Linked DNA regions of Homo sapiens: region 1 is linked to region 2. Evidence: fine-mapped expression QTL. A gene starts in region 2. The other region holds a variant in brackets. All regions are shown on one strand. Distances are between the middles of the regions.

Region 1 (15,659 bases), 370 kb before region 2:
GTCATCAGAAACCCAAAGCATGTCTTCTTCTTTCTCTACTATTCTTACATCTTTTCCTTCCCTGTGGTTGCTTCATGGTCACAAATAATTGCTGCAGCTCCAGCCATCATGTTCACTCCCCAGACAGCAAGAAAAAAAAAAGGCAATAGTAAAAGATTTCCTGCCTAATACTTTGTTCAGTACCTTTCAAGTAGTTTACCCAAGGATTTTACATAATGACTTCCACATTTTTCTCTCTCTCTTTTTTTTTTTTTTTGAGATGGAGTCTCGCTCTGTCGCCAGGCTGGAGTGCAGTGGCATGACCCTGGCTCACTGTAAGCTCCGCCTCCTGGGTTCAAGTGATTCTCCTGCCTCAGCCTCCCAATTAGCTGGGACTACAGGCACACACCACCATGCCCAGCTAATTTTTGTATTTTTAGTAGAGACGGGGTTTCACCATGTTGGTCAGGATGGTCTCCATCTCGTGACCTTGTGATCCACCCACCTCGGCCTCCCAAAGTGCTGGGATTACAGGTGTGAGCCACCACACCCAGCCAATGACTTCTACTTTTTATATTAAAGCCAAATTATATCTGTACTGGAGACTGGGGTGTTAAGTATTTTGGCTAACCTGTTTCCACCCTTAATAATTAAAAAGAAAGAAAGAATGAAAATTTGTAGACAATCAGTAGTTTCTTTTCCAGAAACAGATAAAAAGCTTACAATTTAAGTACGTAGAGTAACAAATGTAGGAAATTCCAAATATAATAGAGTAAACAGTTCTGCTCATGACGTGAACTCATTGCACTAAACAATACCATCAAAGAGAATGGTATTCTTTCTGAAGTGACCTAGTGAAAATAACTCCTACTGTCCCTAAGAAAAATACAAAAAGAAACCGAAAAAGTAGAATGCCATTAGTTTTTGTTTGTTTGCTTGTTTATTTGTTTTTGTTTGTTTGAGATGGAATCTCAATCTGTTGCCCAGGCTGGAGTGCCGTAGCATAATCTAGGCTCACTGCAACCTCCACCTCCTGGGTTCAGGCGATTCTCCTGCCTCAGCCTCCCAAGTAGCTGGGACTACAGGCATGCATCATCACACCCAGCTAATTTTTGTATTTTTAGTAGAGGCAGGATTTCCCTATGTTGGCCAGGCTGGTCTCGTACTCCTGACCTCAAGTGATCTGCCTGCCTCAGCCTCCCAAAGTGCTGGGATTACAGACGTGAGCCACCGCACCCAGGCTATTTCTTTGTTTTTAAGGGAGAGAAAACCACAAATGAAACTGAGCCATTTGATAAACATTTCTTAATTATCTACAATGCCAGAAACTGTTCTGGGCACTTGGGATACAGACATGAACAAGACAAACATTTTTACTGTTATCATGGAGCTTATAATTAATAAACAAATAAAGAATATCTCAAAATAGCATCATCCAGAGTTAAAATAAGTCAACATGATAGAGATGGACTGTATGGCTAATTTTTATGGAGTCATCAGGAAAAACCTCTCTTATAGGGCTATATTTAAGCTGAGATTTGAATGACAAGAAAAAATGAGCCATATGAAGCTCATTTTAAGTATTTGGGGCCAGAGGAACAGCTGGTGGAAAGGCTCTAGATCAAGCTTGTCCAACCCATGGCCCATTGGCCACATGTAGCCTAGGATGCCTTTGAATGTGACCCAACACAAATTTGTAAACTTTCTTAAAACATTATAAGTTTTTTTGCATTTTTTTTTCTCATCAGCTATCAGCTATCATTAGTGTTAGTGTATTTTATGTGTGGCTCAAGACAATTCTTCTTCCTCCAGTGCAGCCCAGGGAAGCCAAAAAATTGGATGCCCCTGCTGTAGATAGAGAAAGGCTTAGTATGTTCTAGAAGCAGAAAGAAAGCTGGGAGGCTGGAGCAGTGTGGGGTGAGGGAAGCAGTTAGATACAGGAGATTAGGTCACAGAGGTGGGCAGAAGCCAGACTGTGGAGTGTTTTGCAAGCCAAGATAAGAAGTTCAGATTCTATTCTAAACATAATGAAGAGTACTAAGCAGGAGAGTGAAATTATCTGGTTTTCATTTAAAAATAATGACTCTGGCTGCTAGATGGAGAATAAATAGTAGAGAGCAAAAGTAGAAGCAGAAAGAGCAGTTAGGAACCAAATGCTGTAGAATGGATGATGGTGCCTGAGAGTACAGTTTAGTGAAAATCAAAATAAATGGACAAACTCAAGATGTAGGCATGGAAATAAATGAACAGATTCATCCATTGAACTTGGGGATAGAATAGGTATTGGGATGGGGCTAGTGAAGGAAAAAGAAAAGAGGGAAAATTCCCAGCTATTCAGCTTGAAAAAAAATGGGATGATGATGATGATAACTGGAGTAAGGAGTAAGTTTGGGAAAGGAAAATAAGCACTCTATTTGGTCACCTCTGTGACCTAATCTCCTAATCTGTATCTAACTGCTTCCCTCACCCCACTCTTCTCCAGCCTCCCAGCTTTCTTTCTGCTTCTAGAACATACTAAGCCTTTCTCTATCTACAGCAGGGGCATCCAATTTTTTGGCTCCCCTGGGCTGCATTGGAGGAAGAAGAATTGTCTTGAGCCACACATAAAATACACTAACACTAATGATAGCTGATAACTGATGAGAAAAAAAACGCAAAAAAATCTTATAATGTTTTAAGAAAGTTTACAAATTTGTGTTGGGTCACATTCAAAGGCATCGTAGGCTACATGTGGCCCATGGGCCATGGGTTGGACAAGCTTGATCTAGAGCCTTTCCACCAGCTGTTCCTCTGGCCCCAAATACTTCAAATGAGCTTCATATGGCTTCATATGGTTAGAAATTCCAGTAACACCTCCAGATGAAAGTGGCTGGCATGAAAATGGATCTATGAATCTGCAGAGGTTGAAACTGGAGCTACAGATTTGGGAATCACTGATATTTCTATGGCATTCCAATTCATGGGAGTAGATGAGATCATCCAGGAAGTGGAGAGGTAATATAGAAGTCAGAGAACACAGCCCTGGCATACGTGACATTTAGAGTTAGGACAAAATAAGAGGGGGGGCAGTAAAAGAGATTGAAAAGGAGTGTTCAGTGATGGAGAGAAATCAAGAGAAGAAAGTGTTTCACAAGTAGGAAGTAGTTAAATGAGGGGAATGCTTTGTAAGATCAAATAATATCAGAACAGAGAAACGACTTTTGTAAAGCCTGTTTACATAGTACAGAGGGAGAAGATATTTTTCAATATTTCATTTAATGTGAGTGAAACCATGTTCCAAAATCAAGATCATTTATATTCCTGAAGAACAAGACAATCCAAACAAACACAGACTGCTCTACTGACTCCCAGGTTGAATCTGAGAGCCCTATCATGGTCCTTGGGAATTTGGAAAAATAAAAACAAATCTGAGAATCTGTAGTCCTCTTTATCCTCACTCTCTAACACACAGAAATGCAACCATATTGCATCAAAATACAGACATTTAAAGTACATTTAACTAGGCTTTTTCTCTCTTCTGTGCTTTACACATTAGAAACCAGCATATTTGTGCTTTCTAAGATGGAGCACTACCAGGCAGAGTGAATTATTTCTGCTCAAATCCATTCAATAATGTATTTATAGAGTCGGAGAAAGCATCCTCTTTAAATAATATATAATATTGTGCATTCAAGATATTTCTCATACCTTTACCTAGGAAGCCATTTTTTAAAAGATGAATGCTGTGGGATGCCAAAAATAAAACCAATTTGTGGTTGTTCTTGTAAAAAGTTGAACTAGAAACCTCTCAGGCTACCAAAAGTTGCTGTGAATGACAGGAAGAGACAATCCAGGGAAGACTCGTGTCTTAATTTGGAGAGGTGAGCGGTGACTGGTCATGTGTGCAGGTGTGTGTGCATACGTGAGCCCAAAACACTTAGACTGGAAAGGTGAAGGATGGTGTATCTCTACTCGAGTCAGCCCCAAAACCTGCCAAGAAAGAAACCCTAAGATGGGAAGAAGACGCTTTTTCAAGAGACATTGTGAAAACAAAAGGCACAATCAGAGCTGCCTCAGAATCTAAGTGACAAAAGCAGCACAGAGTTGGGGTGTCAACTACAGTGGAACATATATATATATATGCAGTTGAGTTTGTGCATGCAAGGTAAAATGCATTTGGTACCTTAAGAGAGATACAAAAACATTCTTCTTATTCCTGTAAGATCTCATTTGAAGATATGCTCTCCCAGGAGCATAACCCAGAATCATCACTGTGGGGACTGAACAAAGCACGACACCTTATTGCATCTTGAGACATTTGTAGTGTTAGGGATGCACCGGAAGATGCTCCTAGGAGCAGCAAACCCATGTTGTTATGGAGGCACCCACAGGACAGGTAAGAACTTTCTTTATGAGTCGTGGGCTCTCAGCAAGGAAGCCACAGCCAAAAAATATAAGAGACAAGATGTGAAACACTGGAGACACTCAGAAATAACCAGGGAGACATAGGAAAGGTGATCTACAAGAGTGAAGGTGCTGCAGCTGTGCAGATGAAGCAATTAGGAAATGCAGCTATTTGTTAGGTGACCTTATTTTTACCTCGGGTAGTAAGGTCTGAAGACATTTAGTTTACACTAATAACAAAGCACGTGTGTTTTATAATACAATTCTATGTTTGTTTTTTTCTGATTAACTGTACTAGGCTATTTACACAGTGGAATTGTAGTTAAAGTTATTTAGTAAAGACGTGACATGAATAGACAGTTTCACTGACGCTAATCACGCAAGTGCAGTGAAGCACATTTATGTTCCAGTAAGTAACATGGGTGAGAACTTCCCATTCTTGTGACATTTTCCAGGCCAGTAGCCTTGAAATTATGCAATTCCAAAATAATTTTGGGGTGGGAAGCTTCCTGGTATCATACAGTCACATTTAAGTGAGAGTTACGAGGAAAAGCTGATGTGAGAAAGCTGTAATATTGCTGGCATAAAAATAGGTGCTGCCAGAGAGTGAGGCAACTGACAAACGGGTTTGCCAAGGGAGGGCTAAGGGACATCCCTGGTAACCATGAGGAGGCTGGCTTGAAACAGCAGGTGTTCAGCTGTAATGAGAACCCAAGACCTCAAGAGCAGACAGGAGAGAAGGCTATGAGAGCCTGCCTTAAGGAGGAGAGAGGCAGCATAGCTGGGAGTGAGTGTGACTCCAGAAATAGACTGTAATACTAGGTATACATTTATCAAAACATCAGAGTGTACACCTTAACCATATACCATAATAATAAATAAAAAGACAGAGACAAAGGGGTCCCATGCAAGGTCACCAGGCTTAGTTGGGTATTCCCAATCAGCAAAATGCCATGATTCTAATTGCCTAATTCTAAAAACTGAATTGTATTGGTGCTGAAAATTAGTAAGGCTCTTAAGTAACATAAAAGAAAACTCAGTGGCAACTGGATCGGACAGCTCAAATTGGGAAACTTTAAACTAGATGTTTATTTAGGGCATGCCATGCACCACCGACGTCACTAGGTTCTGTGGTTACTCTAAACGTAACTACACCAGGTGTACAAGCCTGCACATTTGATCTCTGCTGTCTCTTCCCTAATTTCTCTTGTCTTCTCCAGCTTGAAAAAATATATATACTTCTGGAATTATTCAGTAGGCATAACACCAAAATAAGTTTATTTATGAAAGATTTTACCAATAAACATACAAGTAAATTTTTTTAAGTAACATGGGTAGCAAATTGCATTCCTTCAGATAAACACTGGGAACATATAAGACAAAGAGAAAACAGCTTTCATAATATTTTTGGGAAAAGAATTTAAATGTACTGAAAATGAAGGATCAAAGTAAAACAAGGAGAAAGAATATCATATACTTCACCCACATATGTAATATTCATTCAACAAGCAGTGCTTGAGGCCTAGTATGTGCCATGCACTTCTGTGTTGTTGAGAAACCAAAAATGAAAATGGTACGCTCCCTGTCTTTCTAAGAGCAAATGTTACACAAATAAAGTACAATGTAAAATGCACTGTCTTAAGGTACCTTAAGAAAAACATAAATAAAATCATACTTCTTCCCATAAGGTCTCATTTGAGTGTATGTTAACTATAAATTGCTAACAAGTCATTTTAAAAGAAATGCTGTATTTTTCTCTTAACAGAAATGTATCAACATGTTAAACTACAGGTCTGAATCCTACTTTCCAAATAACAAGATCCTGAAATGGTGACCATGTAGCTGAGGGTTAACCCCTTGCAGTGAACAAATAATGACTGACAAACCAAGACAGGCTACTTAACAGGGTAAGCTCCCTGCGGCTGAATGAAAGATCTGACTTCCAAGGAGTTATTTAAACCCAGACCCAGTGAGGCAGTCCTGCCAAAGATAGATACCAACCTGACTTTTCATATTCAAGCTTTCCAGGCCAGGACTCCAAGCTAGGCTGCAGCAAGTTCTCAGAAAGAAATTGCCTTCCAAGTATTACCCCGTTATAGCTGGTGCCCCCACAACCTGGCTTTCTCCCATCACCATGGTGATTTGCTGAGTCATATCCTCAGCAGGTCTCAGAAGGTATACTGTAAAGATACATGGAGAGGCCATGATGGTACTGAGAGACACAAAGCTAAAGGAATAGTTAAATTTTCAACCACTATGTAAACTGAAGAAACAAAGTCCAAAGTCTAGACATCTGGTATAAGCTATTTGTAAGACAATGTGTAGTATTTCAGGAAAAGTTACTACTTCCTGACTGTCAATATTAGTCTTGATATTAAAAAATCTAAAATAAAAGTAGAGGAAATTTGTTTTTGTGTGTTATATTCTATGAAGAAGGTGGGTACTGAAGTCGATCCAACAAGTATATTGTACAGCTTGTGGTAAACTCAATGCACTTTGCATATTTCATAAGAGATTTGAGACCAACCAAGTTAATTTTGATTTTCAATCATAAATTAGGCTTAACTTTCCTAAATTTTAATATTTACTTAATTTAAAAAAGTAAAATGGCACTCCACATGAAAAAAAATTATATAAAAATTACTTTTCTAGCATATAGCAAATGTTGAAAACTTATGTTAAATCCTACTTCTTCAAAATACTATGTGTAATTTACTTCTAAATAACCCCTGGATCAAAGAGGAAGTGTCAAAATTTTTAAATATTCTGAAATAAAATACTTTTAATTTAAGTTAATGTAGCTTTTTATAAGCTAACTAAATGAAAGTGAAAATACAACATCAAAATTCAGAGATTGCCCGTGTTATAGCACTACTTTGAAGGAAATTAACAGCATTAAATTTTATATTACTAAAGAATAAAGATGTAAAATCTGTAATCTAAGCTTCTGCCTTAAGAAACTAGAGAAAGAGAAGCAAATTAAGCATCAAGCAAGCAAAAAGAAAGAAATAATAAAGGTTAGAGCATAGGTCAATGAAATTGAAAACCAATGAACAACAGAGAAAATCAATGAATGAAAAACTATTTCTAAAATTGATAAACCTCTAGCTAGACTGACATAGAGAAAAACAAGACAATAATAACTGATATCAGAAATGAAAAACAAGACATCACTAGATCAATCGCATACACAGTGAAAGTATAATAAGTGAATACTACCAACAACTCTATGCCCATATATATGACAAATTAAAATATAACAACTATTTGAAAGACAAGAACTACAAATCTCTTTCCAAGAAGAAATATGTAGTTTTAATAGGTGTATTCAAGACGTTACATTTGTAGTCAAAATTTTTCCAGAACAGAAAAGTACAGGCTCAAAGAAGTGTATTGTCAAGTTCTACCAAACAGTTAATAAAGAATAATACCAATGCTATATAGTTTATACCAGAACATAGAAGAGGAGAGAAAACTTCCCAACTCATTTTA[C/T]GAGCCAGCATTATCCCAATATTAAACCCAGCTAAAGCTCTATCAAGAATAGAAAACTACAGATCAATATTCCTCATGGACATAGATACAAAAAGCTTCAGCAAAATATTACCAAATTAGATCCAGCAATATAAAAAAGGAATGAAACATCATACGACCAAGTGAGATTCATTATAACAATGCAAGATTGTTCAATATTTGAAAATCAATTAATGTAACATACCATACTTACCATAGACTAAATAGGAAAATCATGTAATGATCTCAATAGATGCAGAAAAATTATCCAACAAAATTCTAAATGCATTCGTAATAAAAATTTACAGCAAACCAGGAATAGAATGAAACTTTTTTACCCATTTTTTTCTTTCCGGAGACTCACTCAGTAACCCAGTGCAGTGGCACAATCTCCACTCACTGCAACCTCTGCCTCCCAGGTTCAAGTATTTCTCATGCCTCAGCCTCCCAAGTAGTTGAAACTACAGGTACCCACGACCATGCCAGGCTAACTTTTGTATTTTTAGCAGAGATGGAGTTTCACCATGTTGCCCAGGCTGGTCTTGATCTCCTGACCTCAAGTTATATATATATATATGTATATGTATATATGCCCTTTGTAAGGGTAAAAACGTCTAGGTGGGGTGGCTCACACCTGTAATTTATCTATATATATAAATTATTTATATATTTATTATAATATATAACATATTATTATATAATATATAATATATAACATATTATTGTTATAATATATAACATATAGTATATGTTATAATATATTATATATTTATTTAATAAATATATAATATATTTGTTTATTATAATATTTATTATAATAAATATATATGTATACCCTACAGCTGACATCATACTCAATGGTGAGAGACTGAATGTTTCCCCCTAAAATCAAGAGTAAGACAAAGATTTCATTTCTTACTACTGCTATTAATCATGGTCCCAGAAATCCTTGGCAATACACTAAGGGGAGGAATAAAAAGAAGAAATGAAAGGCATACAGGCTGGGAAGAAAGAAATATAAGAGTCCTGATTCACAGACAATATGATTATCTTTAAAAAAAAGTGCAATAAAAATCCTAGAGTTAGTAAGAAGGTTTAACAAGGTTGTGAGCTACAAGATCAATGTATTTCTATATACCCGCAATGAAAGAAATAAAATTTGAAACTAAATCTCAAAACATCACATTTACATTTACACAAAATATTAAGATAAAGCACTTAGGTATAAGTCTTTTTAAAATGTGTGCAGTATCTACGTGGTAAAAACTACAAACACTGATTTAAAAATCAAAGATCTAAATAAATAAATACACCATATTCATGAACTGGAAAACTTAATATCATTAAGATATTAATGACAATTATTTCCAATTTGATCTATAGATTCAATGTAATTCCAATAAAAATCCCAGCAAACTCTTTTGTAGATTTCGACAAGCTGGTTCTAAAAGTTATATGGAGGGTCAAAAGCAATTAGAATTGCCAAGTAATTCTGAAAAAGAACAATGGTAGAAGACTCACACTACCCAATTCCAGGTCTTGCTATGGAGTTACATGATCAACGTAGTGTGGTATTAGTGCAAGGATAGAAATAAAAATCAATGGAGCAAAAGAGAGAGCCCAGAAATAGGCCCACAGAAACATAGTCAACTGACTTTTGACATAGGTAGAAAAGCAACTAATTGAGAAAGAATTGTCTTTCAGCAAATAGTGCTGAACCAAGTGGATGTCTCTATGAAGCAAAACAAAAAATAAGACAAAAACCAAAAAGAACCTTGATAAATACCTCATACCTTATACAAAAAAAGTAAACCAAAATGGATCACAGACTTAATGGCAAAATATAAAACTCTTAAAACATCTAGAAAATAATAGGAGTTTGGCCATGAGATTTTAGATACATCCCCAAAGGCACAATCAGCACGATCATCCATAAAGAAACAAAATTTAAATTAGACGTTATCAAAATTAAAAACGTTTGCTCTGTGTAAGCACTTAAGAAAATGAAAGAGAAGACACAGACTAGGAAAAAATATTTGTAAATCATGTATCTGATAAATGACTTGTCTCCACTATGTATAATGAACTCTAAAATTCAGCAATAAGAAACAACCCAATTTTAAAAAGGGCAAATGATCTGAACAGACCCATCACCGAAAGAAGATAGACAGATGGCACAAAGCACAGGAAAAGAGGTATAACATCATTAGTCATTAGTAAATTGAAAATTAAAACCATAATGAACGATCACCACACATCTATTAGAATGGCAAAGAGAAAGCAAAATGAAACAAAAACAAACCCCAAACCCTGCTGATACCAAGGGCTATAGAGGATGCAGAGCAACAGGAGCTTTCATTCATTTTTGATGAGAATATAAAATGGTACAGCCACATCAGAAACAGCTTGGTACATATTTATAAAGTCAAACACACACAATATGCTATGGTTTGGATGTTTTTGGCCCTTCAAAAATCATATTGAGACTTAATCCCCAGTGCAAGAGTATTGGGAAGTGTGACCTTTGGTAGGTGATGCAGTTATGAATGCTCTGCACTCATGAATGGAATTAGATGCTCTTATAAAAGGGCGTGACAAAGGGAGTTCATCCCTTTTGCCCTTTCTGTATTCTGCCTTGCGGGGACACAACATTCCTTCCCTATGTGGGATGCAGCACCAAGGCACAGTCTTGGAAGAAAAGAGCAGCCTTCACTTGACAACCAAACATGCTGGTGCCTTGATCTTGGACTTCCCTGCCTCTGAAGCTGTGAGAAAATAAATTTCTGTTCTTTAAGAATTACTCAGTCTCAGGTATTTTGTTAGAGCTTCACAAAATGAACTAAGACACACATGGTCCAGCAATCACACTGCTAGGTATTTTCTCACATGAACAGAAAATTTTGTTCGCATAAAAACGTACATGAACATGTATAGCAGCGTTCATCATCACCAAATATTGAAAACAACTAAGATGCCTTTCAACAGTTGAACACATAAATTTTGATATATCCATATAGTGGAATGCTATTTAACAATATAAAGGAATGAGCTGTTGCACACAGCAATATACATGAATCTTAAATGCATTAGCTATTTGAGAAAAAAAGCCAGGCCTAAAAGGCTATGTATTTTATGATTCCATTTTGAATGACATTATGTAAAAGGAAAAGCTGTAGGGACAGAAAGTGATAAGTAGTTGCCAGAGACAGGGGTAGAGGATAGAGATTGATTACAAAGGCAACATGCAAGGAAATATTTCAGGGTAATCAAACTGTTCTTTATGATACTGGAGTGGTAAATACATGACTATGCATTTGTCAAAACTCATAGAACTGTATGCTGAAGAGTGGCTTTTACTGTCTGCAAAGTAAAACAAAACAAAACAAAATCAGGATTTGGGGGAATCAAAATGAAATACAGCTTTTGACAAATCAATCTAAGTGTACAATAAATATACAACATAACCTCACTGAAGGGGTAAGGAAGAAAAGCGCTAATCTAGTAACTGGAAAACAAGTATTTTGTCTAGATATTGAAAGGCCATACCTAGATAAAAAGACAAAGACAAAAAGAATTGTATATAAGTATTGTATGCCAGCTGTTAAATTTGTTTCTCCTAGTAGTACAGTTTGGTTATTCTGACACTCTTTTTTATATTTATACTAAAATTGAACAAAAAAGGGATACAGATGATAGGAGCCTGGCTTCTCGCTATCAGAGAAAAAAGTTACAAATGACCTTACCAATAACCAAGACAGGAATGTTAGAATGAACCCATGGTGCTGGATTACAATCAAACATATCAGAATAAACTCATGTTTATTTTACCATACCATAGTGTGTATGTGTGTGTGTGTGTGTGTGTGTACACACACTAGCATCCAGACCTTGGTTTCTAAATAGCCTTCTCCCCATCTCCAATAAGGAGATTAAGACTTCTGAACAAAATAGCTGATTCTATATTGCAGCAAGGAACCACAAGATGAACTTTGATTGTGTTGTAGTGTCACAAAGTAAGAGAGAGTTTAAAAAGAAAGGGGGTGGGGGCAGGCACAGTGGCTCATGTCTGTAATGCCAGCACTTTGGAAGGTCGAGGCAGGAGGATTGCTTGACCCCAGGAGGTCGAGACCAGTCTGGGCAACATAGTGAGACCCCCACCTCTACAAAAAATAAAAAAATTAGTCCAGTGTTGCATGCAACTGTAGTCCTAGCTACTCAGGGGGCTGAGATGGGAGAATCACTTGAGCCCAGGAATTCAAAGCTGCAGTGAGCCATGATTGTGCCACTGCACTCCAGCCTGGGCAATAGAATGAAACCTGGACTCAAAATAAAATAAAAATTAAAAAGTGGGGAGGGGGGAGGAAGTATGGTGCCTGTTGAAAAGACACAGCAGGAACCAACATGAAGAAGTTTCCAATGGCTAATGCTGAAACAATCTGAGCAAAAATAAATAATGATAGTATTAAATTGTCACCCAAAGAATAAAGTAAATATCCATCAGTCCATATAAACAATAAGTTTAATAAATAAGTAAATGAGGAAGAATGAAAGAATGGATATATTTTCCTTGCAAAAGAATTCCAATTAGTAAATGTTTTAAAAATGACAGAAATAACAAATCACCATTAGAACATCATAGCTATAAATGCTACAGACAAAACGCATTAATGAATGCTAAATTAGTGGGCAGAACTTTTGGGAGAAATTGGATATTTGCTCAAACTTATGGTATCTCCCCTCAAATATTTATTAATTATTGTGATGTCCAAACTATGTCCACAAATTTTTTAATGGTCCTCCCTCTAGGAGGTAAGAGCTTAATTCCTCCCTCCCTGAGTGTGGGCTGAACTATTTGCTTCTAGCAAATAGAGTACAGAAGGAAAAAACAGTTACTTGACAGTGGAGAAATCTGGCAGACACCATCTTAACCAAGTGATCAAGGTTAACATCACCAGGAATATGTAATATTGATATCATGCACCCCCTGATATAATGCAATAAAAAGAGAATATTACTTCTGTGGTATTTTCCTCCAAAATCAATAATTTCAGTCTAATTTTATAAATTCTTTCCAAATCCCAATTCAGGAACATTCTAAAAAATATCTGGCCACTATTCAGAAGGGTCAAGGCTATGAAAAATGAGGACATTTTGGGAAACTGTCATAGATTAGAGGAGACTAACGAGACACAACTACTGAAGGCAGTGTGGTATCCTGGATTAAACCTGGGAAAAGAAAAGGTAACATCAGTGGAAAAACTGATGAAACCTTATAAGTCTTTAGTTTGGTTAATACTATTGTACCAACTCTGATTTATTAGTTCTGATAAATGTATCATGGTTATGTAAGATGTTGGTTATGTAAGATGTTAGCTTTAGAGGAAATTGAGTGAAAGAGCTGTAGGAACTCTCTATACTACCTTTACAATTCTTCTGTAAATCAAAAATTATTTCAAAATGAAAAAATAGTAAAAGCCTTATGTCGAATCTAATTTCCTTATGTATTCTACTTAAAAATTATTATGCTTTTGTTTTCCAAGAATTTTCAATAAATTTAAGATTCTTGACTATTATAAAAGTGGCAACATGTGAACGTAATGCCAGCCTGGAAATCTGAAACCTTTGGTCCAAATTCCAGCTTCACCAAAAAGCATGATCCCCAGGAACTTAGGGATTCTTTGGATTCAGTTTTCTAATCATCAAAATAAGGAGTTTGGACAATGCGACTCTTACACATCACTTCCATCTTAAAAAGGGTGGGGGGAGTGAGAAAGGGGAGAGCTTATATTTTTAAGAAAATATAAACCTCAAAATATTTTTAATGTAAAATATATACCAAAAATACAAACGTCAAATAAAATAAAATATTTGTTGGCAATCTTAGGAGCACACTGGAGACCATCTCACAGCATTGGTAAGGGAGATCAAATTGCAAAGAGAACTGAGACTTGTGACTTGACTCGTTCTCCCCTTTAAGAATGAAGTCAACTATCTCCTTTAGTCACCAACCAGAAAGAAAAGGTCGGTCAAAGCCAGTGGCTTCAGGTAAGAGGAACCATCTGTGCTGGCTGTGGAGGAGCAGTCGGGTCCATTGTCAGTTGCAAGGGAAACACCAAGGGATTACTGCAGGAAGAAGCATATTAGGGCATCTAAAAAATCATCTGGTTAAGAGTAATGAATCTTCCTTCAGACAAACATTGAATTGCTTAATTCTAACTTTTAGGTTAAATTATAAATCCATTCATTCAAGCGTCACAATGCCCTATATCAAATGAATACCAAAAATATCCAGGAAAGAATTCAGTATAATTGTCTTCAACACTGTTTGCAATCTTTATTATAATATTTAGTCTCCTCTTCTCATTTAAGCAATTATCAGGGCTGCTATGACTCCACAATACGGTCTTAGAGGAGGAGGATTCTTTGCCTTCTACTTCTTGAAAGCAAGCTTATTAAGAATGACATAGAAAGAATTGCAAGCCTTCATTTTCTAAATTTCAGAGCCCTTTTCTGTAAAGTTAAAGGGTACTATAAAATGTGTCAGGGAGCTACACATGCAGATACTCACATTCCACTTAGAAATCCTTATGGATTGCAAGTCTCTAAGTGAGTCTCTGTGAAAGGCAAATATTCAGGATGTCACTCTTCCCAAGAGAGAGGGTTTTGATTGCAGAACATGCTACATTAATGAAGCTTTGTTGGCAGCTGGTGAGTCAAGCTTCTGGGTAGCATAATGCATTGTTTTTTTTCTAATACTATGTTTAAAAAAAAAAGCATGTCCAGGACTGAGCCATGTTCCAATTACTTAGGAAGAAAACCAAGAGTATGTAAATTTTACTTTTTTGCTACTTATTTATTTTTGATATAATTTCAAACTTTCAGAAAAGTTAGAAAAAGAAAAAAAAGTCCCATATACCCTTCACCCAGATTCAATCACATATAATTATATATACATGTATATACAAATTTGTAAAGAGATAACTTGAGACTGTATATATGCTGATCCTTAGCAAATTTTCATCAGTTAGTATTAACATCCATTGATGGTTCTTGCTTGAGTCAATTATTACCATAACAGCTGTGAAATTATGATTTTTCTAACTAATTCATTCAACATCTATTAGTTGGCATTAGTTGGAATTCCACCATAAGAAAGAGCTCCTCTTGTTCATCTTTTATTTATTCAGTCATTTATTTGTGTCAGTATTGACTCATGGATTCTTATTTTGTTCAATGAACTATAATTCATTATTATCATTATTTTTTCAATGCTAAAATTGTCAAGTAAAGGCATTTTGAAAGGCTTATAAACCATATTAAGTGGATTTTCCAAAGTTATTTTGCCATGAAAGCAAATGGTCACTTTACCTTCAAAACATTTTGAGACAAAAAAAAAATAATATGTCCTTCCATTTGAACAGAAACACTAAGAAATCTTTTGCCTGCTTAGAAACTCCTGTCTAGACACATTACTCTTTCACAGGACAAAAATCTCTGTTTTGCTCCCTATCCAGGGCTGCAGTTAATTACATGAAGAGACAGATGCTGAGCAGCCTTAAGGCTTTCTCTGCCACCGCAGCGAGGCTGAGCTCCACTCAACAAGCAGGTAGTGAGTGAAGACAAATGCTGTTTGACAAGGCAGCATATACTACACACTGGCTTAGAAAACAGACAAACCACTCTGTGTTCCCAAGCAAAGACAGAGGAATATCAAGCAGATCTTTTCTGACAGAAATCATATCACAGCCGCACTTCCAGACAAAGTCTGTGTGAATGAAATGATACAC
Region 2 (15,659 bases):
AGGATTGACTTAAAAGTCTAGACTAACACTAAGGTAAGGAATACCATCAGAAAAGAGTTGAGGGGATTTGGAATCATCATTCTGATTCCGTAAGTTTTATGTTAGTTGGACCTACTCTATAGATAAAGGAGGTCCCTGTGAAGCAAAATCTTGGGAGGTCATCAGATATGGAGAGTAATTAATACATTTGGAAATCTTAGCCAGTACCAAGATTATTAAATTGGGCTACTAAATGCTGGAGACTGAATCCCTTTTACTGATTATTTGCTTTTTCATTATGATACCTAACTTTTCCCTCAGTAAATATGTAATGAATTTCAGATGGTTCTCAACTTTCCAAAACCCAAAAAGTTCATCTGTGAAGGCCTAACTTTTACTTTAAGTATATATAAAATGCAAACACATACAATTGAATATAAAATAAAAAGAACGGTTTTAAAGTAGCATGTAAAAAATCCATTTTATTGATTTATAATCATATTACCTTCTTCATAAATAAAGATCCATAAAGATGGATCCAAGATGGCATGCATCTGCAAGGGATGGAATTCCACAGATAAAACCAGAGCAAAAAGGTCCAAAAGGAAGGACTGAATGAAGACACAGCCTCATTAGCACAAAGAAATTCAACTCAACTCATTACATGTCGATTACCAATACCTATCTTTAGAGAGACAGTAAAATATAAACTAATTTACGTTAGTAAAATTGAACCAAATATATTTCTCATCTTTTTTTTTAAGACAAGAGTCTTGCCCTGTTGCCCAGGCTGGAGTGCAGTGGTGTGATCTCAACTCACTGCAACCTCTGCCTCCCAGGTTCAAGCCATTCTCCTGCCTCAGCCTCTGAGTAGCTGGCACTACAGGCATGCACCACCACACCCGGCTAATTTTTGTATTTTTAGTAGAGATGTGGTTTCACCATGTTGGCCAGGCTGGTCTCAAACTCCTGACCTCGAGTGATCCACCCACCTCAGCCTCCCAAAGTGCTGGGATTACAGGCGTGAGCCAGCGCACCCAGCCCCTAATCATTTAAAATGCTCTAGGCTTGCTAATTCTTACTGTATCTAGTTTCTGGACCAGCATTTGCTCCAAATCCAACGCAGGAACTAAGTAACAACAGCACTTGCATCCTGATGACAGTCTTAGCTACATCTACCTGAGGCAAGAAACTAGAAAAACAGGATATATTGTGGGCTAAGATCAAAAGAACTGTTACAGAGGGCCTAGAAATATCTCATTCTACATTTGGCTACACTTTCCTACCTCTTCTTTTGCAGGATTACCTGACTTTAGCCTAACGCTAAACTATGACCTATTTCTAAGAGTATCTTTCTCTATACTGAAATTTCTGAATATTATGTATATATATGTAATATATAAATCAACAAAATTCACAGATTTTTAAGATTCTAAATTTAAATAGATACAGGTACACTGTACTATGGAATAACCTTTCCTTTTCTTGTATTCAAATAAGAAAACTTCAGTTGTCCCAAATATAGATAGAAACTAAAAACAGTTAATTTAATAGTGATAGAGGAATATTCATAGAGACTAACATTGCAGACTAGGATTTATACTACAAAGATTTTTTAAAAAAACATACAGTGTTTGAAATTAATGTATCTGACTGCCTTTCTCTAATGCTCCCGCTTCACCTGCAGCACATCAGACAAGGTAGTAATTTATGATAATCATATGAAAATATACAATTAATATTCACCACCTCTCATTCCTCATCACTTCAGACGATCAGTAATGCAGAGTGAAAATGCTGTCAGATTTCTAATTGCTTTGTAATGGGCTTGAAACAGGGAAATCATTAAAGGCAAACAATCTGTCATTTGTCTGTTACTTTAACTATCTATCACACCAAAAAACTCATTAAAGAAATTGCTAATGAGCTACAAAAGACTAGAGTCATGGTGCTTCTACAGTAGATTAAAAAGTAATACTATGAATTGCTGAAAGTATTTTAAAAATATGATATTTTGTGGAAATTCATCAGAAAACATCTATTCTTCAGTATATTTTTTAAGATGTGTGGTTTCATTATTTTGGCATTTAATCCATCATTGCAGAAATCCCTTTAGCATACAAGACCTGTTTTTCTCAGTCTCTAACTAATTAAACTGAAAGGTTGCAAGAAGCTGAAATGCTAAATGTGTTTATTACTAGTAAACTGACATAAGTAATAAAAAACAGACTATAGTAACCCTGATGCTAAATGAAGAATGTATTTTAAAATCTGATTTTTACTTTCATATCTCTTGTGGATTTAAACTGTTGAAGTTGTAATGCTTAATCATCTTAAATAATGCTACCATCATACAAAAATTATATTCAATGACTGAATTTGAGCATAGTAATATTAAACTGTGTGTAATTATATATTAACTATTTTGAAATATTTGAAAATATTAACCAACACTAACATGTCTCATAATTTTACTTCATGTAATTTTAGGGGAGGAAATAAATCATTTCTTTAAGTGAGCACACAACATTTTATATGTCTTTATGAATTCTACTCTTCCATATGAGATACTTAGCATTTAAAAACCTATAATAATGACACTAATCTTATTTTAAAACAAGAGTTATTGCCTTATATTTTAGAAAAATATGCAAGTAACAAAGATAACAATGATACTAATTATGTTTTCCATTGCTAATGATGAATTAAGTCATGAATTTAATTTCCTATTACAAAAGATGAGGCTCATTAATAAAGTCAAACTTCTATGTATGTTGACCCATTCATACCTATTAGAATTCACACAAATTAAAAAACCTGAATGCAATAACATGTTTAGCCAGGTGCCATAGTTAATATACACTAGTGAATTCCACACTTAACTTCAAAAGGTTCCATAACACCCTGGAAACATCTTCATTATACTCTCTAATTGACTTAAACAGACTTCAAATCAACTGTTTAACACATTTTAACCCACAAATTAACACCCCTTGATCATTCAGATTAACCTTTCTTCTGTAAGTCAATTACATGACAAAAATAAACTTTTCGAAAAAAATTCAGGATTAAAAAACTAAAATAGAGAAAGTAGCATGCTTTAAAAAACAGTACAGCCAGTACCTGACTTAGGATGGTTTGATTAACAATTTTTTGACTTTACATGGTGTGTATTCTACTGAATACATATTCAGAAGAAGCCATACTTTGAATTTTGATCTCTTCCCAGGCTAGTGATAGTTAGTAAAATAATTTCTCATGATGCTGGGCAGTGGCAGGGAGCAGCAGCTGCCAGTGAACCATGCACTCTCTGAGGGTAAACAACCAATACTCTATGGTGTAGTGTGTGCTACATGATTTTGCCCAACTGTAGGCTAAAGAAAGTGTTCTGAGCACAATTAAAGTAGGCTATGTTAAGCTATGATGTGCAGTAGGCTAGATGTATTAAGGCACTAATAATATTTTCAACTTAAAATGGGCTTATCAGAGATAATCCCATCACATGTCAAGGAGCTTCTGTATATAAATGCATATCCCCACATGACTGGAAGAGATCACCACAAATTTCAGTGTAGTTGGAAAGTGCATAGAAAAACCAGAGTGGTGATAAGAAAAAAGAGAAAAGGGCAAACAAGTGAATGGGGGAAAAAACAAGTTGGTATTTGTATGACTATTAAAGATAAATAGAAGATGGATTACAGACAATATTTTTAATAGGCTCATGGAATGATTAAAACATTAGATGTGAAGATAGGAAAACAGGAACATAAATCTCAGATAAGATAAAGACCTATAAGAGGTCTGAAAAAAGTTAGAAAGAACTGACACATAATGCTAAAAAACAAGAAAAACACAGCAACAAGTGCGGTGCCCGCAAAAAATATTTACCTCTTCCTCTTTCTCTCCTGCTTAGTGTACTGCCTTGCACAAACTCAACGAAAGTTCATCGATGATGACTATTGTCAAAATGGCAAAGCAGATAATAGACTGAGTTAAGACAACCAACAAAGGGAAAAATGAAAACCATTTCTAAAAGATGAGCTAGGATTATTCATTAGAGCTGATTCTCAATACTATCTAAAGCTTTATGTTAATCTGTCAAAAAAAAAAAAAAGAAGAAAGGAAGTTTCTTTCATCCTAGTCATTCACCTCTCCCTTCCTTCAAAACACTATTTAAAACTTAACATTTCATACATCTTCCTGGATTAGCTTCATCTTGATTCAAGGATTTTAATCATTCAAGTAATCTATTCTACGTATTAGTATACCTGCAAGTTATTAATTAATGTCACAGCACCTGGTATTTCCTCTGGCATAGTACTTCCTACAGTTATTTCAGTTCCTTTTTAAATGTCTGTTTACCCAGATAAACTAAGCTTTTGACAGGACTACAGTCAACTTTGTTTTGTGTCTCTTGTAACTAACGGAGTGTGGGGTACATAAGAGACACTCAACAAATATTTGTCGATTGAGTCAATAGGTGAATGAAGGCTGTATATATATCATTGACTTTTAAAAATCAAATAACTAGCTAGTTTTTGGTGGTTTTTCTATCTTCCCAGTAGATTATAAGTTGCTCTAGAGACAATCATTCAATTTTGGAACATAACCATCATATCCCATGGTACTTAAATACAGCTTAGTTCACTGGTATAAAAATCCTAAAATTCAGAAATAAAAATCAAGGAAATGAAGGAATAGTTGGTGATGGAACTACCAAAAGAGCCAAGTAAATATAATCCTGAATAGGAAATAATTAGCAGAAGTACACTATATGTATACATCTATATAATATAGATATAGATTTCCATTATTATCCATCAATGAGAAGCACAATTGACTAGTATGACATCAAATTAAGAATTTGTGAATGTCTGGTAGACGTTAGTTTACGGGCAGGCGTGTACCAAAGTGATAGATTTAATAACAATGTCATTTTTTCCTATCATCATGACAAAGGATCTTAAACTCCTGATGTATCTAGCTACATCTATAGCACTTGATCAATCATCTGGGAATCAAATATTTAATATACGCCTACCTTGGTTATGTTAGATGCTGATGACGCAAACTAAAGTTTTGCCTATCCTTTTAATTTATTCTGAAGTCCAACCAAATGTACAGTTCAACAAATATTTGGGTTTGATTTTATTTTTCCAATTCAATTGTTTCTTGCTGTCATTTGCTCTCTTTGGAAATTCCTAAAATACTGTTATGAATGTCCAACATTCTAATATATCAAATGTGCAACAAATATTATTAATTAATAATAACAACAATAGCTAACCTTTACTGAATACTTATTACTTTCAGGCACAACTATCTCATTTAATTCCCACAACAAATCTATGAGGGAAATACTATTATTACTCCCATATTACAGAGGAAGAAACCAAAGCAAAGAGATGAATTAAGTTCACATAGCCGTAAGAGGAAAAGCCTGGACTAAACACATATGTTCTGACTCTAGAGTTCATGCTTTTAACCATGATACTAACATAGTTTATATTTCCACTATGTAAGTTTCACATAAAATGGATAAATTGCCTTTTAAATATAAGATACTGAGAAACAAAACTATTAGAGCTATGTATCATTAGAACTCCAGAGAATGAGGCAAGATAGCTGGTTCTTAGTTTCTCTGGAGAGGTGTTCTTGCTCTCAGAAAGCTTGCAACCCAACTGGGGAATCAGAATATATTCTAAGGAAAACAATATACTGTGATATACAAAGGACTTGCTATGAAAGTTGAGGGGCGGCAGTAAGTTCTAAGGACCAGGCCATCATAAAAGGCTTGATGGAAGAGATAGGCCTTAAAGCAGGGATTACTCTGATAGGAGGAAGAAAAGAATTAGGGTGTTATAAGTAAGGAGAAGCATTTGAACACAATTATTGATGAAATGCTGTTACCAAAACACCAGGAGTTCCATCTATGTCTTGCTGCTTACCACCCAAAAAGTCAATCACTGAGACAATGATTATTGTCAAAGAAGAAGGCTTTAATCAGATGCTGCAGCCAAGGAGATGGGACATCAGTGTCAAATTCACCTTCCTCACTGACTAAAATTAGGGGTTTATATAACAGGGAAGAAATGTTAACTACGTATGAGAAAACAGGAACTAAGGAAGGGTAAGGAAACAATAACGAAGAATGAGGGGTCTGGCATATCACTGTCTAGATGCAGTAATCTGGTGAGTTTCAGCTCTTTGATACTTGTTGAGAGGTCTGGGCATCCTTTCTTGAGGAAGGAACTGAGATAAAGATCAACAAAATGTGGCTGGGCGCAGTGGCGCATGCCTGTAATCTCAGCACTTTGGGAGGCTGAGGCAGGCAGATTGCTTGAGCTCAAGAGTTCCAGACCAGCCTGGCCAACATGGTGAAACTCCATCTCTACAAAAAAAAATACAAACATTAGCCAGGCATAGTGGCATGCACCTGTGGTCCCAACTACTTGGGAATCTGAGGTGGGCAGATGACTTGAGCCTGGGAGGTAGAGGCTGCAGTGAGCTGAGATCATGCCACTGCACTCCAGACTGGACACCAGGGCAAGACTCTGTCTCAAACAAGCAAACAAAAAGATAAAACAAATGCAAGTTTCAAGCTTTCAGAAAAGAAGTGTCCATTTCTATGTTTATTAATTTAAAAAACCCCAATAAACAAAACTAAACAAACAAACAAAACCCTGTCTATGGGACTGTTGGGTTGATTTCAGTACCATGAAAAGATCCAATTGTTTAAATGTTTAATGTATGGAGATAATAGGGGAGGTTGGAAAAGTAAGGATCATATTGAAGAGGTAACTTGAATGCTAGGTTAAGGAGTTAGGACTTTATTCTCTAGACCTGCCCTGCTGGATACAGTAGCCACTAGTCACATGTGGCTACTGAGCATTTGAAATGTGCTAGTTCAAATTGAGGTGTGTTCGGGCACAATACATACCAGCTTTTGAAGACTTAGTAGGAGAAAAGAATGTAAAGTATCGCCTTAATAATTTTTAGATTAATTAATTTTGTAGCTTGCACTTACGGCTTACATTATATTTCTATTGGAAAGTACTGCTCTATAAAATGAAAAATGAAGGAAGCTTAATGATCAGAAATTTATGTAAAAATTGTTTTAAGAAGTTTATTTTGGTATAAGCAGAGTGTAAGACAACTGTTCTCATTCAGTAAGCCAATGGCAAGTAAAGAAAAAAACAAGGTTCTAGTGAAGAAATGGGACTGCTATAATTTAAAAGATATTTAAGAGACAGAACAGCTAAATGGAAAGTGTACATTTTGTCTGATTCTGAGTCAAGCAAACCAACCAGAAAAAGACATTTTCAATTAACCGTGGAAATGTAAGTAAGGTCTAGATATTATGTGACAGTCCAATAATGACATTATGGAGATAAAAGAAAAAGTTGGTACATTTTAGGGATGCAAACTAAAGTATGTAGAGATGAAATGACAAAATATTTGGTATTGCTGGGGAAAAAAACTATTTCTTACTTTCCAAACCCCAATAAATAAATAAGGTAACACAATAACCTAATAAATAGTAAATCAAAATAAAATGCTTTTGCTGTAAAAAACAAAAAACCTGGAGTACCGGAGCATATCTACCTACACAAGGAAGAACCAAGCTGTGGACAGAAGGGAGTTTGAGGGCTAGAGATGTTCAAGGTGGCATCATTCTGACAGTACTGTTTAGAAAAGCATTCACCACACTACTTAATTCCATTGCTTTAGGTATTTTCATGAGGCCACACAAGAAAGTATGATGCAGCCAGGACTAAAACCAGATGCTCTTTGTATCTGCCTTTAAACATGACAAAACCCTGTGGAGAACCTAATCTATGCTTTCATCTTTAGATTTTTAAACTTGCTTGTTTCATTCAGTTATTCTTTATAGTTCATAACATCATTAAATAACTGATCATATTAGATTATTTTATTTATTCTGCTTAAGTTTATCTTGACTGCTTCTCAAACTCAGATTGGTAGAAGTTTAAAAAAGAAGGAAAGCAAAATCAAAGCAGTAACAACAAAACCATTTTAACATCTCCAAGTGAAATTTATGTCATGCTGGCCAAAAATAAGATGTAGTTTTCATCTCCAGGTACAATGCTAGGAAGAGGTGTTAATGTAAAGTAAGCAGCACAAAGAAGTAATAAAAGGAAACACAGGAATCAAGAAAGGGAGAAGAAAGAAAGGTGAGAAAAACACCACCACCACCACCACCACCACCACCAGCAACAATAACAAACCCCAACAGTGCCCATATGCAGTGCCCCCTAACTGCTTCGAAGAAGAACAGTTCATTCTGCTTTTTTCTGTAAGCTTGAAAGATAGCATAGCTGCCCTGGGAATGTGTAGACTTGCTGAGTCCTTGTTCTGCCCCTACCCAACTAGCTGTTTGGCCTTGATCCTTGATTTCTTTCCTCATCTATAAAGTGGGAATAATGGCACCTGCCTTACTTGTCTCACTGGGTTGAAATGAAAGCGAAGTGAAATAGCAAATGTGAAAGAATTTTGGAACGTTTTTATGTTGTAAGTTGGTTGCTAAGGTCTAAAAGAAATATTAATAATTACGTCGAATATCTTCTGCAGAAAAAATTAAACCGACCCCATCCCCCGCACATCTAGCCCTACCTGGCATAGGTTTTAGTTCTTTTAATTTTCGAATTAGAACATTGTAAAGGAACTGTAGGGACGAGAGTGGCATCAGGTCTCCTCATCCTTCTCACATCCTTGCCCCCGCACCCCTCTCTCACCCCAGAGTTCAAGCACCAACCGAAAAGATTGAGAGTAGCTCAGGGTACGGTAAACGGAGGAAGCTTTGAAAAAGGCGGGGAAAGCCTGGGATGGCGAGGGGGTGCTCGCTGAGGAGGAGGAGAGAAGCGACAGTCGCGGGGCCCGGAAAAGAGAGACTTAGAGCGAAGCCAAAGGCGCCTTTCTTCACAGTTTGGGAACTTACTGGTAGTAAACGCCACTCCATAGAAGCGGTGACCGGTTACCATAGAGACCGCGTCGGGGTGGGCGGAGCGTCGCTTCTGAGCTGTGCCACGGCCACATCAGCTCGGCCAGAAACGCGAACACGTCGGAACAGTGACTTCCGGCGGAAGAAGAAGCCGGTCCGGAGTTCTGGCCGACAGCAGGCGAGGAGTGGGTAGCAGCGCCTATGTGAAGTTAGGTAGGTCTGATGTCGTATAAAGCGCGGAGAGGGTGCCCGCCAATGGCTGGGTGGGTAAAGCCGACTGTGAATGGAGAAGATTCCCAAGTCCCGAGCTTGAGGAGGCCCCGGCTGTTTCGTTAAGTGTATATAGCTGTGGGAAGAGGTTGCCTGATTTCTGGGGCTCCTGGTAGGGTCTCTCTTCTGGAGCGTGGAAGACTGGGGCATCCTCGCGTAGAGAGTTTCACTCTGTCTTTGCGAGGTCTCAGCGCCTCTCCAATAACAGGGGACTCTTGTTCTCTACCAGCTGGTGCTGACGTTATTTCCCATATCATGCTCTCCAGACAATCTGGAGGAAAAGCAAACGAGAAACTTTCAGAAGGAATGCCCCCAAATTTATTTTAATTCTTTGATGTTCTGTTTTGCTTTTTTTTTATTCGTTCATTTTGTAAATATTCATTAAGCTCCTCCAGCGTGTTTAGTGGGTGCTTACTTGTGTGCCAGTTTTATCATAAGACTAGCAGAAATACCTTCTTAGAGGTTCATACACCACCTGGTTCATTATAAAATTCTTTTTTTTAATGCTGTTCATTAATTAAAGTATAAATATATATCGTGAAATACCTAACACGTTTTCCATACTTGTCGGTACACTTATACCTGGAATTCTTGGGGCATTTTAAATGAAAATCTGTGCTTCCTCAGGTTTGCATTATAATCATGATTTACTCGACTAAATACTAAAGAATTTACAAGGGCAGTACTTAATTTTTTCTTAGATACATGGCAAACTGTGATGAATTGTCATTAATATTTCTATTCAGCTAATCTGAGAAGGCCCACTTCTGGTTCCATGGATGATGGCGGTTGAGCAGATGCCAAAAAAGGATTGGTACAGCATCCTGGGAGCAGACCCATCTGCAAATATATCAGACCTAAAACAAAAATATCAAAAACTCATATTAATGGTAAGTCTTTTCTTTCAGATTTTAAATCATGAGGGGAAAAAAATCAATTTTTATATGAAACCACAAATTTAGGTTTCCAGAAAATAGGATACCAGTGGCAGGAATCCAGGTATTAATTTGATTTAATTGAACATTTCAGTAATATTGCAGAAAAACTTGATTTGAGGTGGAAAAGCATGGTTAGGAGCAGGAGATCTGAGTCAGGCTGCTTGAGTTAGAATCTTGAGTCCATCTTTATCTGTGAGAATTTGGACAAGTTACTTTTTCTTATATGTGCCAAGGGAGGATTAAATGAAATAATCCATGTAAAATATTTAGAAGTGTTGTTACATAATAAACAACAGTAGCTACTAGCCACATGTGGCTGTTGATTACTTGAAGTGTGGCTAGCCTGACTTGAGATGGACTGTAAGGGTAAAATATACACTGGATTTTAAAGACAGTATTTAAAAGGAATTAAAATAATTTAACAATTTTTATGTTGATTATGTTGATTAAAGTTCACTGGTTTTATTTTTCCTCTACTGTGTCCATCTGCTGATAAACTTCTTAAAAGAATTCTTGATCTCTTACCTAATTTTCATATCTAGCATTTCTACTGGCTCCTTTTTTAAAGTTTCTATCTCTTTCTCATCTTTTTATACATACTGTCCACTGTTTCTACTATATCCTTTAATAAACTTATCACAGTTAAACTCCCTGTCTGATAATTCTTTGTAGTTAATAATCAAACAGTTTTTATGTGGATTATATATTGAAATGATGATATTTTGGATTACTGGCTATTTTGTGTTTTATATACATAATATGCATGCATGTATTTGCACATATCAAAGTTTGTTTCTCTTGCATTTTACTTTTTTAACATTGCATATGTAGCCGGCATTTATACTTACATTATATTTCTATTGGGTAATGCTGATTTAGACCATTTATACACTAATTATCAGTTGACTTTTTTTTTTTTTTTTTTTTTTTTTTGAGATGGAGTTTTACTCTTGTTGCCCAGGCTAGGGTGCAATGGTGCGATCTTGGCACACTGCAACCTCCGCCTCCCACTTTCAAAGGATTCTCCTGTCTCAGCCTCCCAAGTAGCTGGGATTAAGGCGCATGCCACCACGCCTGGCTAATTTTTATATTTTTAGTAGAGACAGGGTTTCATCATATTGGTCAGGCTGGTCTCGAACACCTGACCTCAAGTGATCCTCCCGCCTCAGCCTCCCAAAGTCCTGGTATTACAGGCATGAGCCACTGCACCCGGCCGACTCTTTTTTTTTTAAATGAATTGTAGTATTTGTAAATATATCTCTGAATTTTTATATTCATTTTTTCAATCTGTATTGTGATGCTTCTTAAGCCAATGTCTGTAATTCTATACCGACGTCCGGTTAACTCAGTTTATAAAGAGTAAAGAACCATTATTTATATAGAATTTGTTGTCTCTTTAGTTTATACCAGTTACATCAGTGTTGTTTTGCCAAAACTATTAATGTTCATTGTGAGAGACTAACTGTTTCATCATCAGGATTGTACTAATATTCTTACTTTAGGTAGTATGTTGGACTAAATGACCTTAAGGTACCTTTTGCCCCAGAAGTTTTAAAGTTTCTGTCAGCAGAATCAAGTAGACTTTATTGAAAAATATCCTAATATTAAACCATCCTTGTACCTCACTCAGTTAATTGGGAAATGAACCTGGAAAAGTAGACTGGATCATTCTGGTTCTTGTAGGCCATGCTGGCCTTTAATTGGCCACTGAGAAGCAGTCTGCACATAATATGTAGTATCTGTCAAACAGCAAAGTAGGTAAATCATTTCACATATGCGCTAACAATGTATCAGAGAATTCTGGTTGCTCTACAGCTTTGCCAATATTTGATGTTATTGGTCTCTTTCATTTTGGCTATTGGAGTTTTTGCAATTTTGCCACCATTGACATTTTGGGCAGGATAATTCTTTGTTATTTCGGCTGTCCTGTGCTTTGTAAGATGTGTGGCAGGATCCTAGATGCCAGTAACAACCAAAAATGCCGCCTGCATGTCAAAATTGCCACATCCCATGAGAATCACTGGACTACTCTACAGTGTCTGGTCATACCCCATTGTGGGGTTGTTGCTTTTTTAAAATTTATCTGATGACTAATGATGTTGAGCCCTTTTTAATGTGATAATTGGCCATTTGTATAATTTTCTTTTATGAAGTGTTTTTTTTTAAATTAAATATATTCTTGATTCTGTATATATGTTGTATATATTTTCTCCTAGTCTGTGATTTACCAGGTCATTTTCTTAATGGTGTCTTTTGATGCAGAGTTTTTTGTTTTGACAAAATATAATTTATCAAATGTGTGTTTTTATAGTTAATACTTTCCATCTTCTCTAAGGTTATGAGAATATTCTTCGATGTTTTCTTCTAGAAGTGGTCATTTGCTTTTACCTTTAGACTTATGATTTCTGTGTATAGCATGAGATGTGAGGTCATGTTTTTATTTTTCCTCAGTATATTCAGTTGTGCCAGCATCATTTGTTGAAAATTTTTTTCTCCATTGGACTGTCTTGGCAATATGAGTCTATTACTGGACTCTATTCTGTTTTATATGTTGTTTATCCTTTTACTAATACCTCCATCTTGATTACTGTAGATTTATAATCAGTCTCAAAGTCATTGTAAAGTTAGTTCTCTAATATTATCCTTCTTTTCCAGTTTATTTCGGTTATTCTAGTTTGCTTATATTTCCACAGAAATTTTAGAATCAGCTTGTAAATGTCTACCAAAAAAATCTTGCTTGAGTTTTCAACTGGGATTGCAATAATAGGTATCCACTTTGGTAGAATGGCATCTTAATAATATTGAGTCTTTGAATCTATGAACATGTATCCTTCTCCTTACTTAAGCCATCTTTCATTTCTCTCGTCAGTGTTTTATAATTTTCAGTGTAGAGGTCTCACATATCTTTTCTTGAATTTATTTCTAGGTATTTGGTTTTTGGTTCCATTATAAATGGTATTTTAAAAAATAATTCATTTTTCACTTGTTGATTGATAGTATATAAAATTATAGCTTATTTTTATATACTGGTCTCTTATCCTACAATCTAGGTAAATTTGCTTTTTAATTTTCATAGCTATTTTTGTCAATTTCTTAGAATTTTCTGCCAACACAATTATGTCATTTGCAGATAACGAGAGTTTTAATTCTGTCTTACCAATCTGTATGTCTTGTATTTCCTTTTCTTACGTTAAGGCACTAGCTGGTTGCTTCTATTAAAATGTTCAGTTGAAGTGTTAAGAGCAGGTATCCTTGCCTTGTTCCTGATTTTAAGAGGAAAACCTTCAATGTTTTACCAGTAAGTATGCTGTTAGGTGTATGTTTTTAAAGATGCCCTTTATCAGCTTGGGGAAATTCTTCCAATTAATACTTTGCTAAGAGTTTTTATGGTAAGTAGGTATTTAAATTTGTTAGATCCTTTTTTTTTTTGCATTTATTGAATTTTTGCATTTATTGATTTTTCTCATTTAATTTGTTAATGTGGTGAATCACGTAGATTTTTCTTAAGTTAAACCCACTTCTCATCCCTAGGATAAACAAACCACTTATCATGAAGCATTATTATATTTATACATTGAGGGATTCTAGTTGCTATTATTTTGTCATGGATTTTTATGTTTAATTTCATGCTGTATATTTGTCTGTAATTTTCTTTTCTCGTAATGTTTATGTCTAAATTTAGTATCATAGTTATGCTAGCCCCATAAAATGAATTGTGATTTCTGGCTTTATAGTGAGGAAGAGAGGTGGAGGGCTAACCATTTTTTTAGTCTTAACCAGTCTTTCTCTTGTTTAGTTTTGCCCCTCAACTCCACTCTCAAAGGTACTTAATGCCTTCCGTTCCTCAATTTCTCCTGCCTCTGTGTGAATGAACTCACTTCTTTGTCTCTTTCACTTTAGACTTAGGTTTCAGTTTTTGCAGGTACACTGAATTTGTTATCATTTATTGATGAATTTTCCATCTCTTCAAATTTTGGTGTCTTTTGCCTGTCTTTTCTCTCCTGTTCTTTTGCCTGTTTTTTTCTCTTCTCTCCTGTTTGTTCTTACACATTTATGCCTTTTTTTAAAAAATTATTATTCCTTTTCTGTTACTATCAAGGAATTTTCAGAGGGATGAAAGTGTGAGCCAGTTGCTGTGGTTCACACTTGTAATCTTAGCTACTTGTGAGGCTGAAGCAGGAGGATTGCTTGAGCCCAGGAGTTCAAGGCTACAGTGAGATATGATTGTGTCACTGCACGCCAGCCTGGGCGACAGAGCAAGACCCTCTCTCTAATTAATTTGCCATTTAGTGGAAGCCCTGAACTATTTTCTTTTCCCTTTAGAGGCCAGATACCCTTCTGTGGCCATATGCCTTTGCACTTGCACTCTGCCCATCCACTACCTCACCTGATTCTCACTCACTGTTTCAAAATGATCTTAGTTGTAATCGTGCCTCCCCAGCTCCCTGCCATGTCTTTAGTACATTTCATGATATTTCTCTAAGACAGGGGAGGTATAGCTGTTAGATAAGGAGAATGAGGGTAGGTGGACTGTAATAAAAGGTTGAAATTTTTTCTTCTGCTTTTCTTTTAGAAGATGAGAGAGACTTGAACATGTTTACACTGTATGGGAAGTGGCCACGGAAAAGCTTGAGATTGAAGTTATAGGAGAGTTTGAATAATTAACAAAAGCAGAGAGGAATAGGATCTGAATCATAGGTAGAAGGATTAGCTTTAGGTAAGAGATAGGAGGGACCTGTCTTCATTGTTACAGGAAGGAAGGAAGGAAGAAAAGATAGTTGCAATAGCCGGTTTATTTGTAGGTTTGGTAGCGGAAAGTTGATGAGCTCTCATTTGGTACCTTCTTTTTATTCTCTGTGAAGTAGAAGACAAAGTTATCTGTTGAGAAGGGTGAGAGATGAAGTGAAGCAGCAAATTACAGGAGAGAGAATTTCAACTAGCATTATTCTGGGAAGGCTCCTTGTAGATAGCTATGTATACTATGGGAGCAAGAAGTCTCAGCTAACAACCTGGCAGCAGGCAACAAGAGACAATACATCTGATATAATTTGGCTGTGTCCCCACCTAAATCTCATCTTGAATTGTAGCTCTCATAGTTCCCATGTGTTGTGGGAGGGACCCAGTGGGAGATAATTGAATCATGGGGTGGCGAGGAGGGGGTTCCCCCATATTGTTCTCCTCATGGTAGTGAATAAGTCTCACAAGATTTGATGATTTTATAAGGGGTTTCCCCTTTCGCTTGGCTCTTATTCTCTCTTGCCTGCTGCCATGTAAGACATGCTTTTCGCCTTCTGCCATGATTGCGAGGCCTCCCCAGCCGTGTGGAACTTTGAACCATTAAACCTGTTTTTCTTTATAAATTGCTCAGTCCCGGGTATATCTTTATCTGCAGTGTGAAAATGGATTAATACACCATCTCATAGCATTTTGCCCTTCTTTTTTCTTGGTTGATGTATCAGTGGTCCTTATATTACAGTTCAGCGCAATAATTTATAATCATAATTATGGCC

Which allele goes with the higher level. Positions count from the first base shown, and alleles are read on the strand shown. Sizes are in standard deviations (SD) of each study's normalised expression.
As copies of C replace T in region 1, the expression in hepatocyte-like cells of the gene that starts at base 8,981 in region 2 goes up (moderate effect, 0.40 SD a copy in PhLiPS).

Evidence for each region. PIP is the estimated chance that this variant, and not a neighbour inherited with it, causes the effect.
Region 1: its variant is the best candidate, but not a certain one, in a credible set for the expression of DCDC1 in hepatocyte-like cells (PhLiPS, PIP 0.55).

Annotation. Positions count from the first base shown.
Region 1 is chr11:30,986,096-31,001,754 of GRCh38, forward strand. The region is part of intron 20 of DCDC1 (doublecortin domain containing 1); the gene reads right to left. Among named protein-coding and RNA genes, the nearest start is that of LINC02859, 260 kb to the left of the region's middle. The variant C/T (reference allele first, on the strand shown) is at 7,855.
Region 2 is chr11:31,360,759-31,376,417 of GRCh38, forward strand. It overlaps DCDC1 (doublecortin domain containing 1), which reads right to left and starts at 8,981. Exons shown (of 39, transcript NM_001387274.1): 1 at 8,939-8,981. DNAJC24 (DnaJ heat shock protein family (Hsp40) member C24) reads left to right here and starts at 9,102. Exons shown (of 5, transcript NM_181706.5): 1 at 9,102-9,154; 2 at 9,958-10,101. The coding sequence starts at 9,991. RefSeq lists an enhancer at 8,915-9,394.